2 linked regions of the Homo sapiens genome follow. The protein of the gene in region 1 interacts with the protein of each later gene in a biochemical or structural test. Each region holds a gene or a part of one and is shown on either strand. Other genes may lie near its edges.

What was found.
Region 2: the proteins of RIOK3 (region 1) and CASP10 form a complex in vitro, tested with the Homo sapiens proteins (one study listed by IntAct).

What each region holds. Positions count from the first base shown.
Region 1 is NC_000018.10:23,477,059-23,483,879, reverse strand, and holds the end of RIOK3 (serine/threonine-protein kinase RIO3), read right to left. Parts: coding exon 6,794-6,821; intron 6,724-6,793; exon of another isoform or gene 6,702-6,723; coding exon 6,612-6,701; intron 4,564-6,611; coding exon 4,456-4,563; intron 2,709-4,455; coding exon 2,601-2,708; 3' UTR 740-2,600; downstream 1-739.
Region 2 is NC_000002.12:201,178,193-201,186,140, reverse strand, and holds the start of CASP10 (caspase-10 isoform 1 preproprotein), read right to left. Parts: upstream 3,001-7,948; 5' UTR 2,833-3,000; intron 371-2,832; 5' UTR 364-370; coding exon 17-363; intron 1-16. UniProt on the Homo sapiens protein: Involved in the activation cascade of caspases responsible for apoptosis execution. Recruited to both Fas- and TNFR-1 receptors in a FADD dependent manner. May participate in the granzyme B apoptotic pathways.

The sequences.
Region 1 (6,821 bases):
TCTGAATTCCTACAATATTTAAATTCAAATAAATGACTTACTTTTGTAAGCAAGAAAAACTAATTTTTATGAAAAGAAAACTGGTAATTATCTTGTTGAAATAAAAGTTATCTAGTCATCCTTATTTTGATAACTTAATGTGAGACAAAATATCCCTATTTCCGTATTTTATATATTTTCATTTTATTAATTTATTTGAGACCAAGTCTTTATCTATCACCCAGGCTGGAGTGTAGTCGTGTGACCATAGCTCACTGCAGGCTTGATCTCCTGAGCTCTAAGAATCCTCCTGCCTCAGCCTCCCAAGTAGCTGGGACCAGAGATGCATGCCACCACACTCACCTAATGTTTTGTAGAGATGAGGTCTGCTATGCTGCTCAGGCAGATCTCAAACTCCTAGGCTCAAGTGATCATCCTGCCTCAGCATCCCAACGTATTGGGATTACAGGTGTGAGCCACCACGCCCAGCCAGTATTTGATTTTTTATTTACTTAGCAAACCAGTATTTTTCACTTTCTTTTTCTACTATGGGAAAAAAATCTACTCTCTAATCTACAAGGTGTGAGGGGGGGAACCTATTTGTAATGTGAAGTAGGCCATTTGCGATTGAAATCTAACAATGAGAAGTTGAGGGGGAATAATCTACTTAAAATAGCATTGCTTAACTTTATACAGAAACAGCAACTTGGTACCAGGACATAAGTTAATATAAGGAACAGGAAGATACCACACAAAGAACCAATTTTAAAATGATCTCTTTTTAATTTCTTAAAAAGCACATTCACAGCACACTCCAAGAATGCCACACAGCAGTGGTTTGCTGCTCTTTGTCAGAATATGTCAGAAAACAAAACAAAAAAAGTTTTAAATGCTAAAGATTTTAAAAATTAGTTCTCTGAAATTTCTGTAAAGCCAGTATCACCAGTCATATAAATCTTTATTTTGGAATCATAAACCTTTCAAAAATGTAATGAGCATCTACCCAAAATTACACCTCTCTGAAATGTAATTAAAAGCTATCCAACAAAAACAAAAATAAATATTTTTCTAGAAAGAACATATTTGGCATTTTAAAATAATGTTAAAAACAGCTTTCTCAAATGTAAATGATGTCTAGATTTTTACTTTCTATTACCAGACAGAAAGTTTGGATCTTTAGTGGTTCCAATCTGACTTCAGTAATAGGAGGCATGATTACATTGAAGTTAATGAACTTTAATCCTAACAAAGCCAATATACTTTTCTAGCACAGTGATTGCTTTTTAAAAGTGGTGTCCAGCACGTACTAAAAACTACTAAGAGTAAGGCCAGATAGCTCAAATTAGTTGATTAATTTGGTATCCAAATTGGGTTTTTTTTTTTTTTTCCTGGAGATGGAGTTTCCCTCTGTCACCTAGGCCGGAGTGCAGTGGCATGATCTCAGCTCACTGCAACCTCTGCCTCCCGGGTTCAAGCGATTCTCCTGTCTCAGCCTCCTGAGAAGCTGAGATTACAGAGAAGTGCCACCACACCCGGCTAATTTTTGTATTTTTAGTAGAGACAGGGTTTCGCCATGTTGCCCAGGCTGGTCTTGAACTCCTGACCTCAAGTGATCCACCCGCCTTGGTCTCCCAAAGTGCTGGGATTACAGGTTTGAGCCATCGTGCCTGGCCCCCAAATTGTTTTATATATACCTTTCATCCTTAGATTTAATATTTCTAATTTGTGATATTTCTCTGAAAATCAATCAAGTACACAGTTCTAGTGAAATATAAACTGAATTTTGCTTCATTAACTAAATTAAAATACGTCAAACATGGTTAAATCTTATATTCTGTCCTTTCAGATAATTTACATTTTATTGATAAATGTAGATTAGCCACACCATGAGTTATATCCTAACCATTTTACCTAAATGTAGAAAAGCTGAAAGTTGACTGGATAGTTAAAAAGCTGTTATATAGTTATCTCTTTCAGAAACCTATGATGCCTTTTCTTAGATATAAGTATGGAAAAAGAATTCTGTTCATTTTCATGATATATCAACAAAAATTACATGACTTATGTCGATTTCTGTCAGCCATTCTGAAACCAAATTTCCATTTGTTCTACCCACTAAAGAGCACACATTTTCCTTTAGAATCACGGCCACAGTCTGGAAACATAATTGAGAAAGGCTAACTCTGGGCCAATAAAATATTCAAGGAAAGACGCAACACAAAACAGGGAGGTGAATAAAGCAAGTATGTTGTAAAATCCTCCCTTGTAAACACATCTGTCCTTTCCTCCCATATTTGGAAGTGTTACCCAAGTTTTAAAAATTATCATCAAGACATTTTACACCACAAGTCACATAAAATTAGGTCTACTTCAGCCAGATAACCTATAGCTGTTAAAGAATTATATTATCCTGTTCATAAGATGAGAGGTAGTGACATTTTATTCTCTCAATGCTGAGCTAAAAATTCCACACATCTGGCACATGGGTTACAAGGGGGAAAAGCACAGAAGCACCATTGCCCACTCCTCAGGTTTTGGTATTTCAAGTCACCCATAACTTCATTTGCTATTGGCAGCTGACAATCACTGCTGTGTTAACACTGAAGCAGTGGGTATTAGTGCTATTCATCATATAGTAGTGGTGGGTCTCCATCATCTTTCAAAAATGAAGCAGCTTTCCTTCCATTCTTCTGAACGTGATCTTCATTCATTTTCTCCAAAGCTTCTATCTACAAAAATAATACATTGAATCCATTTGTCAAAATCCTACTTTTCACAGAAACCATATTTTAGATTGTGCTAGTAATTTTTTTCTTTTTTTGAGATGGAGTCTCACTCTGTCGTCCAGGCTGGAGTGCAGTGGTGCAATCTCGGCTCACTGCAACCTCTGCCTCCTGGGTTCAAGCAATTCTCCTGCCTCAGCCTCCCTAGTAGCTGGGACACATGTGCCACCACGCCAGCTAATTTTTGTATTTTTAGTAAAGACGGGTTTCACTATGTTGCCCAGGCTGGTCTCGAACTCCTGACCTCAGGTGTTCCACCCGCCTTGGCCTCTCAGAGTGCTAGGATTACAGGCGTGAGCCACCGTGTCCAGCCAGTTTTTTTATTTTTTATTTTTTAATGGAGTTTATGTTGCTCAGGCTGGTCTCAAACTCCTGGGCTCAAGAGATCCTCCCTCCTTGGCCTCCCAAAGTGTTGGGATAACAGATATAACAGGAGTGAGCTGCCATGCCTGGCTGAGCCAGTAATTTTTACTCGCTTAAAAACTAGGTTATTCCTAATGATTCTGCCTTTGAGTTGAAATTACTATGTGTGTGTGTGTGTGTGTGTGTGTGTGTGTGTGTGCGTGCATCCAAGTATACACAAATAGTCATACATACATGTATTTTTTTTAACTTGATTGCAAGGGTCAATATTTACTATCTTTATCCAGCTAGCAATTGGAATCATCTATGTTTTGAAATGTATTCTATAAAACATTCCAGAAACAGGAAAAAGAAAACTCTACCATTCATCAAACAACAGTATCACTTACTTACTGAGCAACTGTATTGTGCTGGAAGAATGAATTTACCATCTTTCTGTTATTTCTCTCTAGCCTTAGGCTAGGCCCAGCTTACCCAAACTCAAGTCATCCTGGGGATTTCTGGAACAGACTCAGTAATCACTCTCTGCTTTGGTATAATGTTGGGAATAATTAACTGCTATTTCACCTTTTAGATTTTGTTCAATTTTAAGAGACTTTCTCTGGAGGAAGCTTTTTCATGGTTCTCTAGATCTGATATTATAATAACCGGGTATTTCCAAAGATAGGCACTTCTAACTTTCTATGTTTAGTAAAGGGCAGGGACCACATGTTACTATTTTTTGTATCACTCAGAGTGTTCAACTTCCTCATTCATTAAATAGGGGAAATAGGAGTCTACTGGAAATGTACAGTTTGCCCATCTTAACCAAATGGTGCCCTCCGTGAAGAAATGTTTTGCTGTGTGTGTATTCTGAATTTTAAGTATAGAAAAAAACAGGCCGGGCACAGTGGCTCATGCCTGTAATCTCAGCACTTTGGGAGGCCAAGGTGGGTGGATCCCTTGAGGCCAGGAGTTCAAGACCGGCCTGGCCAACATGGCGAAACCCTGTCTCTACCAAAAATACAAAAATTAGCCAAGCATGGTGGCACACACCTGTAATCCCAGCTACTCAGGAGGCTGAGGCAGGAGAATCGCTTGAACCCAAGAGGCAGAGGTTGCAGTGAGCCAAGATCACGCCACTGCATTCCAGCCTGAGTGACAAACCAAGACTCCATCTCAAAAAAAAAAAGAAAAAAAGAAAAAACCAAAAACATCTTAAGAAAAGAAAAATCTCAAATTAATTTTGTTTTGGGGGAAAGGGAGGATAAAACTAGCTCTGGGTTTCAGTTATCTCCTCTATGCAGTTCTGCATGACCAGCAAGGTGAAAAACAGCTGTTTATCACATACCTCAGCTAAAAAATCAGCTTCATTATCTGCTGTGATGTTTAAGCCTGAAACAGCATTGAAGAGTTCTCGTTCACTAAGGGCTTCCTTGACTCCTCCTTTCTGGAAAAACTAGTAAGGAAATACAAGAAAGTCAGTAAGAAGTATTAGCAATGTTCTCTTATAAACTAAAAACAGGGAGCAGCACATTTATAAAAAGACTTGGATGCATGCACGTGTGCACACGCACACACACACACACACAGTAATTTCAACTCAAAGGCAGAATCATTAGGAATAACCTAGTTTTTAAGAGAGTAAAAATTACTGGCTCAGCCAGGCATGGCGGCTCACTCCTGTTATCCTTGTTATCCCAACACTTTGGGAGGCCAAGGAGGGAGGATCTCTTGAGCCACTACATTCCTTGCCTCATTTCTCAACCATCGATTTTCCTGCTTCCAAGCTGGACTATACTCAGGTTCTAGTTGCTTTTCATCCTCTCACACATCCATCCTGCCTTCTGGATTTAGCTCATACCACTGCACCTTCTATAGCTATAAAAATGAGTGCTATAAATAAAACCACTTGGCATTGCTTTGAATATGTAAAGGAAATACTTTCACTAAACCCCAGAAATTAAAAATTTCAAGCAGGCTCAGAGGTTATTTCCAATATGAAGTTACTCTATCCTTTAGAAAGATCATTGCTATCTGAATCTACTGCCAACAATTCATTTCCCTTAGAAATGCCAAACAAGTGTGACCCAACCCTGTGCTTACTAAATTTTACCATATATATATATATATATATATATATATATATATATATATATATATATATATGTTTTGTTTTTTTAAGAGACAGGGCCTAGCACTGTCATCCAGGCTGGAGTGCAGTGGCACAATCACAGCTCGCTATAATCTTGAACTTCTGGACTCAAACAATCCTCCTGCCTCAGCCTCCCTAGTAAAACAGCCTCCCAGTTAAAGCAGCTAGGACTACAGACATGTTCCACCACACCCAGCTACTTTTTAAATTTTTTTGTAGAGATAGGAGTCTCACTATGTTGCCCAGGCTGGTCTCAAACTCCTGGGCTCAAGCAATCCTCCCTCCCTGGCTTCCCAAAGTGTGAGATTGTAAGCGTGAATCACCATGCCCAGCCACCTAATCTTCTTACCATGCTTCACAGTGACAGTGATCAGACACTGTCCCACAATAGAGACTGTCCCTCTTTTAATGGTAATAATGGCAGCAAGCATACAGGCACACCAGCTTCTGTTTAAGCACTATGCACACATTAAATGTCTACTCGACTGCTTATATACAAGGAGCCAAAACACTCACTTATTCCCTTTAACATTTTTTTTTTTTTTTTTGGAGAAGGAGTCTTGCTCTGTCACCCAGGCTGGAGTGCAATGGCGCAACCTTGGCTCACTGCAACCTCCGATTCCCAGGCTCAAGTGATTCTCCTTCCTCAGCCTCCCAACTAGCTGGGATTACAGGCACACGCTACCGCACCCAACTAATTTTTTTGTATTTTTCGTACAGACAGCGTTTCACCATGTTGGCCGGGCTGGTCTTGAACTCCTGACCTCAGGTGATCCACCCACCTTGGCCTCCCAAAGTGCTGGGATTACAGGCATGAACCACTGCACCTGGCATATTTTTTTTTTTTTTTTTTTGAGACGGAGCCTCACTCTGTTGCCCAGGCTGGGTGGAGTGCAGTAGCACGTTCTTGGCTCACTGCAGCCTCTGCCTCCCAGGTTCAAGTGAGTCTCCTGCCTCAGCCTCCCAAGTAGCTGGGATTACAGGCGCCTGCCACCATGCCCGGCTAATTTTGCATTTTTAGTAGAGATGGGGTTTCACCATGTTGGCCAGGCTGGTCTTGAACCTCTGACATCAAATGATCCACCCACCTCACCCTCCCAAAGTGCTGGGATTACAGGCGTGAGCCACCATACCTGGCACCCCTTGAACATTTTACCCAACTGTAAGACATGGAATCAAATTCTTGCAAAATGAAATATGACAAATTGATCTTTATATCCTTGTCCTGAAAGCAGCCCGTATCCCTTCCTTCAATTTCTAAGAATATGGTCCTCTTACTTATCTTAGGAGTGAGAAAAATACCTGCAGCTGTTACATCCAACAAAAAAAGGCATATTGGTTTACACGTCTACCTGCGAGACATTCCTGCAGTCCCGGAACAAGAACTCCAGGCCGTGAGGGTGGGTAGGTTCTACTGACTGACTGACATCGATCAACCAGACCTATTTCAATACAGAACATGAACTGATGTATTTACATTTTAAATTTTACTTACAGTAATTAAATCTGAATGTTAACAAAATGTGCTCCTCACCTTTCCAGCATGCCACAGCATGTTATAC
Region 2 (7,948 bases), on another chromosome or scaffold:
ACAGACCCGTCCTCACCTAAACAGAGAAACCCTTTGTCGGGTGGGCAGCAGTCGCTCCACTTCCTCTTTGGTACAGTTGAGGTGCTGCAGCAGCTTCTTCTGCCGTATGATATAGAGGAGTTCTGCCAGGAAGAAAGGGTCTTCCTCACTCAGCAGATCCTCTGCCAAGAGATGTTCAAAAACATCTGAGGCTGAGCTGGACTTCTCCAGCTTCTTGTTGGGGACCAATCCTATGCAGAGAAACTTGAGGTTCTCCACATCTTGGACCCCCAGGTTTGAATCAATAATCAGAAGCTTCTCACGAAAGCTCACTTTACAGTTTTTATCTGAACTGGAATACCAATGTTGACCTTGAGATTTCATGGCCAGCCTGAAAGGGACAGAGAGGTGGGGCAGGGAGTTAGAGAGTGAGGACATATGGCCCCCTGACTTCCCAGGCCCTCCCCTCACCACAACCTTCTCCGTTCTGGGCATTAGACTTTCCTAGAAGTGCTGAAAAATAAAAATTACGGCGAGGCTACTTCAAAAAGCAACAGCCCAGAAAACTTTTCCCCAACACTTGCAAGTTACTTTTTAGGAAACTTGGAGGGTGCTTATATTGGAATTCAATTCACCTTGATTTCTCCCAAATCAAAATGTTCCCAGAGAGAGAAAGTTAAGATGGAGGGACACAGCACAATTTTTCTCAAGCCTGGTAGCCTGATTGGAGCCCTTACATTCATTTCCAGCACGTGGCAGAAATAGCACTTGGCTCTATGCTTTAAGTTTTAGACACAAAGCAATCTGGGGGAGGCAGGGTTATCCTTATGATCTATCAACCCAAAGACAGCAAGGTACCGTGAGGTATGTGTGTTACATCTTAACTTCAGACTGCTACCTGTAAGAGGGCAGGCCTTTATCTTACAGAAAGGGAAGGCATAATCCTAGACCTCAAGCCTGAGCAACATGGCGAGACCTGGTCTCTACTAAAAATACAAAAAATTATCAGGGCATGGTGGCACATGCCTGTGGTCCCAACTACTCAGGAGGCCGAGGATGGAAGGATCATTTGAGCCTGGGGAGCACAGGTTGCAGTGAGCCATGATCATGCCACTGCACTTCACCCTGGGTGACAGAGTGAGACCCTGTTTCAAAAAGAAAAATAAATAAATAAAATATCCTAGACCTCAGGAGGAAAGGGTGGTTTTAGACAAGAGTTGCTCAAATCAGTGTAGGAAGTTAAAAATTACATGAGTCGGCTGCTCTGTCTATGGAGTAGCCATTCTTTTGTTTCTTTACTTCTCTAATAAACTTGTTTTCACTAAAAAAAAACAAATTACATGAGTCAATGTTTCCATCTGATCAGTTTATAAACTATGCTATTCTCTATACTAAATTTCATCATAATCAGAGGAGCAATGCAGTGATAAAATTTTCATTGTAATACTATTTATTCTATAAGCACTTGAGGTATGTAGTCAATATGCAGAACTTGGCTATTTTTAGAAACAAGAAAATACTTTATAAAGGAAGGAACAGGTGGGGTGTCATGGCTTACGCCTATAATCCCAGCACTTTGGGAGGCCAAGGCGGGTGGATCACTTGAGGCCAGGAGTTCAAGACCAGACTGGGCAACGTGGTAAAACCCCATCTCTACAAAAAATACAAAAATTAGCCAGGCATGGTGGTGCACGCCTGTGGTCCCAACTACTCAGAGGGCTGAAGCAGAAGGATCATTTGAGCCCCGGGGATGGAGGTTCCAGTGAGCCATGATTGTGCCACTGCACTCCACCCTGGGTGACAGAGCAAGACCCTGCCTCAAAAACAAAACAAAACAACAACAAAAAAACCTCCTAGACCTCAGAAGGAAAGGGTGATTTTAGACAAGAGTTGCTCAAATCAGCGAAGGAAGATAAAAATTACATGAGTCAATGTTTCCATCTGACTAGTCTATAAACTATGGTATTCTACATACTAAATTTCATTATAATCAGAGAAGCACTTCAGGAGACTGAGGCAGGTGGATCACTGTGAGGCCAGGAATTCGGGACAAGCCTGGGCAACACGGTGAAACCCCGTCTCTACAAAAAATACAAAAATTAGCTGGGCTTGGTGGTGTATGCCTGTGGTCCCAGCTTCATAGGAAGCTGAGATGGGAGGATTGCTTGAACCTGGGAGGCGGAAGTTGCAGTAAGCCAAGATTGTGCCACTGCACTCCAGCTTGAGTGCTGGAGGGTGAAAGAGGGAGACTCCGTCTCAAATAAATAAATAGATAAATAAATAAATAAATAAATAAATAAATAAAGGAAGGAAGACACAGCAAAAATCAAAACCTCCATAACAAACAGTGGTTATATCGAGGTGACATAACTATAGATAATACAAATTTCCTTCTGGGCTTCCAATTGAATTTCTCAAATTTTATGCATATGTGAGCATACACATTACTTTTGGTGTTAAAAGAAACAAAAAAATGTCATTTTTAATGTGATAATCCAGGGGATCTTCCCTGCTACTAGCCCTGAGGTCAAATGAGTGGTTTATTGGAGACACCTTTCTATTCTACCGCATCTAGCATTTGCCTTGTGGTTTCTTGACAATTCTGATCTCTAGTTTTAGTGAGTCTACCAAACTTTGTCTCTGTGAGCTAACATATTTCTGCCCCGGTAAAAGGCTATGTTGGAGGCTTCCGGATTTTTTAACTTTTGTTTTCCCAGGCATGACAAAGAAATCTAAGAAAAAATAGTGCCATTGCTGACAAGTTTTTGCAAGTTTCTACAACACGAAGCCATGAAGCAAAGGAAAAGATTCAAGCATGAGACTCTGGAGTAAGAAGGGTTGTTAATTACATACCTTCAGATCAAGCTCCACCAATCTTCTGGAAGTAAACGGTTCTCAGGGAAATTGCCTGAAAACAAAGTTTTAAAGAAAGTAGAATCCTCTGTGTGCTCCAAGGTCCAAAGAAGCTCCCATTTGCTTGGGAAGAGACTTCAAGACTTGCTGGTTGTTTAAGTGAAAACTGAATCTTCAGGACTGGGTAGCCTGATACTAGTTTCCTGCTGATGTCATCACTGCTTATCTGCCTTTTTCCCTCCCCTTTTCCAGGGTTAAGATAACTTTGACAAACAGCGTCTCCTAAAGGCTAATTTACAACTTTCTCACTGTAGAGCTTGGGGTTTCCCCAGGTAAAGCAAAAGCTTCCTAGAAACGAACCCGTGGAAGCCACAAAGTGCTTCAGGCTTTCCTTTGGATCTCCATTTCCTTGGTAAGTCAAAAAGGGAAGCATCTGTTTTCCTAACCAACTCCTTCCCCAAACACACTTCACTTTTCAAATAAAGCCAAAAAGCTCATGAAATAGTTGTCGGCCATGTTAACCCTTTCTTATGTCCACATGCAAATAAACAATGGAGCGATCTCCACTTACCGCAACCTCTGCCTCCTGTGTTCAAGTGATTCTCCTGCCTCAACCTCCCGAGTAGCTGGGATTACAAGCATGCGCCACCACGCCCGGCTAATTTTTTGTATTTTTAGTAGAGACGAGGTTTCACCATGTTGGCCAGGCTGGTCTCGAACTCCTGAGCTTGTGATCCACCCTCCTTGGCCTCCCAAAGTGCTGGGATTACAGGCATGGAGCCACCGTGCCCGGCCCACAAATAAAATTTTTAAAAGATAAAAGAAAAGTGGGGATTCACTTTCAGTCTTTGTGGGAGAAATTAAGAAATAAAAAGAAAAAGAAAGGAAAAAAAAAAGAAAAGTGGGGATGGTGAATTACAAGCCCATTTGGAGGTACCTGCAAGAGACTCAACAAATTTGTGGTAGGCAAAACTGACAGTATGTGTTCTCACAGCACATTCAAACCAGCAGGAAAGTGAGACTTTGAAGACATTATTTCTAATCATAAAAACAATACTGCACACTAATATTGCAACTACCATGTGCCAGGGCATTTACAAATATTTACTCATTTCACCATCCCAACAACACTGTAAGATAAATACTATTACTATGACTGCTGCTTTAACATGTGAAAACTAAGGCACAGAAAGGTTAATTAATTTGCCCAAGGTCACACAGTGAGCGGCTGGAAGAGCCAAGATTTAAACCAGCAAGTTTGGATCAAAGTCACTACACTATAATTAAGCTAACTCAAATGTGCAGCACTCTGGAAAGAGGTACAGAGTCTTAGAAAGATGTTTTATCTATGGGGAAAAAAAGCAAGATTTATGATGCTTTGATTAGCAAATGTATTAAAATGTCCTTTCCATGTCCTAGGCATCATTCAGAGAACTTCTGTGCTTAAGAAAGACAAGTCCTGGGGCCAGGTGCAGTGGCTCCCGCCTGTAATCCCAGCACTTTGGGAGGCTGAGGCAGGCGGATCACGAGACCAGCTTGGCCAAGATGGTGAAACGCTGTCTCTACTACAAATACAAAAAATTAGCTGGGCGTGGTGGCACACACCTGTAATCCTAGCTGCTCGGGAGGTTGAGGCAGGATAATCGCTTGAAGGCAGGAGGTGGAGGTTGCGGTGAGCGGATATCACGCCATCACACTCCAGCCTGGGCTACAGAGCAAGACTCCTTCTCAAAAAAAAAAAGAAAAGAAAAAGACAAGTCCTGGCCAGGCACAGTGGCTCACACCTGTAATCCCAGCACTTTGGGAGGCTGAGGTGGGCAGATTGCTTGAGGTCAGGAGTTCAAGACCAGCCTGGCCATCATGGTGAAACCACATCTCAACTAAAAACATAAAATTCGCCAGGCTTGGTGGCACATGCCTGTAATCCCAGCTACTAGGAGGCTGAGGCTGGAGAATCGCTTGAACCCGGGAGGCAGAGGTTGCAGTGAGCCAAAATCGTGCCATTGCACTCCAGCCTGGGCGACAGAGAAAGACTCTCTCAAAAAAAAAAAAAAAAAAAACCTTCTTGGGAAAGGGGGGCCGGAGCACAGCAGGCTGGGTTACTCACTACCCCAGTTCCAGGGAAGGTGGGGCCCTGACCCTAGAATGCTGCAGCAGAGTGAGGAGGGGGCCCCAACTGACCATAAAGAGTGTAGGGACCACCTTCTTTGCCTGTTCTGTTGGGACCAGGCTAGTCATTATTTGTCCCAGCCTGGGGCTCCCCCTGTGGTTTCCAATTTGCAGTTACTTTAACTTAAAATATAAATATTATTTTCTGGAAAATAACTTAAAAAGGAAGAAAGACAAGCCGTAAGTCTTGGTCTTCTATTTAGTTGTTTTATTATAAATATTAAATTTATTGGGCCATTTAGGGAGGCAACTTATTGAAACTATCACTTTCTCTCACTCTGTTCATAAAGTATATTAACTCTTTCAACTTTGATTCAATAATATTAAATATTTAGCAGGCAATTCAAAGCCCTGAATTGGGCACAATTGGAAAGCAAAGTGACCTGCTTTCCATAGTAACTATGGCGACCGGTACTACCATTTCTAAACTTCTCTGATGAACTCATAACAACTCCCAGCCTTAGCTGGCATTATTATCCACATTCAATAGATGAGGAAACCCAGATTCAGAGAGGCAAGGAATCTTGCCACCATCCCAAAGCTATGAGCAAGAATTCAGGGCTCAAACGTGGGTCTCTCTGACTCCGAACCCCTTGCTCTTGATCCCCGGGCTACCATTGCCCGAATCTCAGTATGACATCGTGTAGCATCTGTAACTGCGGGCAGGGGGTGGTGATGCCACAGTGAGGCTTCACTTTGGTGCCACAGGGGCTTTAAGAAGGGACAATCAGTCAGACATTCCTTGGAGGAGGAAGTATTTGATCTAGGTCTGGAAGGTAAAGGTAGAATAAAGACCCAGGAAGTAAAACTGTAACTTTTATCCTACTGCTCCAGGGAAACATTTGAATCAGGTTACAGAGGGGAGATGGCGTGCAGTGCAGATATTTGTACTCAGCATTTTCTACTTCCTCCTACACACAGTTACTGAGGGCATGTTGATGGTGGTAGAATAAACACGTCTTACAATCTCTTTCCTGATTGGTTGCAGTCTACTGAGTGCACGTGAAGGGCCAATCAAAACCTTCATGGCCTTTTGTAGAGGTGGATGTCAACTACTGCTTTAGTTCCACATTAGTAGGGGGTAGTGGTAGCAGTGGTTGGCTTTCCTTGACATACAATCTGTGGTCCAAGTTCCCCACCCTCTGTCTGGGTAGACTAAAGGGTAATGACTCCTGGCTGGGCACGGTGGCTCACACCTGTCATCTCAGCACTTTGTGAGGCCGAGGTGGGTGAATCACCTGAGGTCGGGAGTTTGAGACCAGCCTGACCAACATGGAGAAACCCCATCTCTACTAAAAATACAAAATTAGCCGGGCATGGTGGCACATGCCTGTAATCCCAGATACTCAGGAGGCTGAGGCAGGAGAATCACTTGAACCCGAGAGGCAGAGGTTGCAGTGAGCCGAGATCATGCCATTGCACTGCAGCCTGCATAACAAGAGCGAAACTCCATCCAAAAAAAAAGAGTAATGACTCCTAAAGGATTGGCATAAGCCATGGGGGAGGAGGAAGGGATATACTGGCTAGAGAAGAGCTCAGAGCACTGAAACCTCCACCCCAACCTATGAGGGTCCTCAGAAGGTCTTGAAGTAGCAAGTCTTCTAGATTTGACACCCCCAACCTCCAAGACCTCCTTACCCCCACTTTGCTCCATACCTTTGTTACGGGATCTTTGGGGTATCAATTTTCTGGCTGGAAACCTCTCTGACTGCAGCACCTTTGCCCGAGTTCTGGCCTGCGTCCAGGAAGAATGAGGTACACAGACAAGTGAAGGGTGAACAAGATGAAGAAGAGCTTTATTTAGTGCTAGAACAGCTCAGAGGAGGCCCACAGTGGGTAGCTCCTCTCTGTAGGCAGGTCATCTGTCCAGTGCTCAGTTCTCAGTGGAGAGGAGGCCCTGGAAAGGGTGGCTTCTCTCTGCTGGCAGGTTGTCTCTGCAGCTCTCAGTGGAGAAGGTAGCTCTTCTCTGCAGCCAGCCATCCCATTGTCTCCAGCTATCAGCAGAGAGTACTCCTCTCTGCAGCTGGTCATCCCACCACCTCTCTGCCCTCTTTGTCCTCTGGCCATCCTCTGCCCTGCTCTGGCTGAGCCCAGGGCTTTTATGGACCTCAGAGAGGAGGAAGTGGCTGCCAATTTGTCCACGGGCACCCAGAAGAGGCACCATGAGTCCCTACTACAATCCACAGGACTGGCAGCCCCACCCCCAGCCTTCAGCCCTCCCTGGCCTGAAGGAGGACCTTACTGGGGACCTGCCCCCTTCTGCCTCCCATTGCCATTCAAGGCCCCAGGACTTGGCCCCAACCCCACTTCAAGATTGGAGAAGGTGCCAGGAGTGAAGAGAGGCCAGGCAGCGGGAGCAGACACCCCCAAGCCTGCGGGATGGGGTGGGAGGGGGTCCTTCCTGGGGCCCCCAGGGTGCAGGCTGCAGAGATGCCCAGGTCCTGCACCTAGGAGGGTGGCTGCAGCCACACCCTGGTGTTGGGAACAGTCCCCCAAATCTGGCCATAAACTGACCCGAAAACTGGCCATAAACAAAATCTCTGCAGCACTGTGACATGTTCTTGATGGCCATGATGGCCACGCTGAAGGCTGTTGTTTTACCGGAATGAGGGCAAGGAACACCTGGCCCACCCAGGGCGGAAAACTGCAAAAAGGCATTCCTAAACCACAAACAATAGCATGAGTGATATGTGCCTTAAGGATATGTTCCTGCTGCAGATAACTAGCCAGAACCCATCCCTTTGTTTCGGCCCATCCCTTTGTTTCCCATAAGGGATACTTTTAATTAATCTATAATCTATAGAAACAATGCTTATCACTGGCTTGATGTCAATAAATATGTGGGTAACTCTCTGTTCGGAGCTGTCAGCTCTAAAGGCTGTCAGCCCCCTGATTTCCCACTCCACACTCTATATTTCTGTATGTGTGTCTAATTCCTCTAGCACCA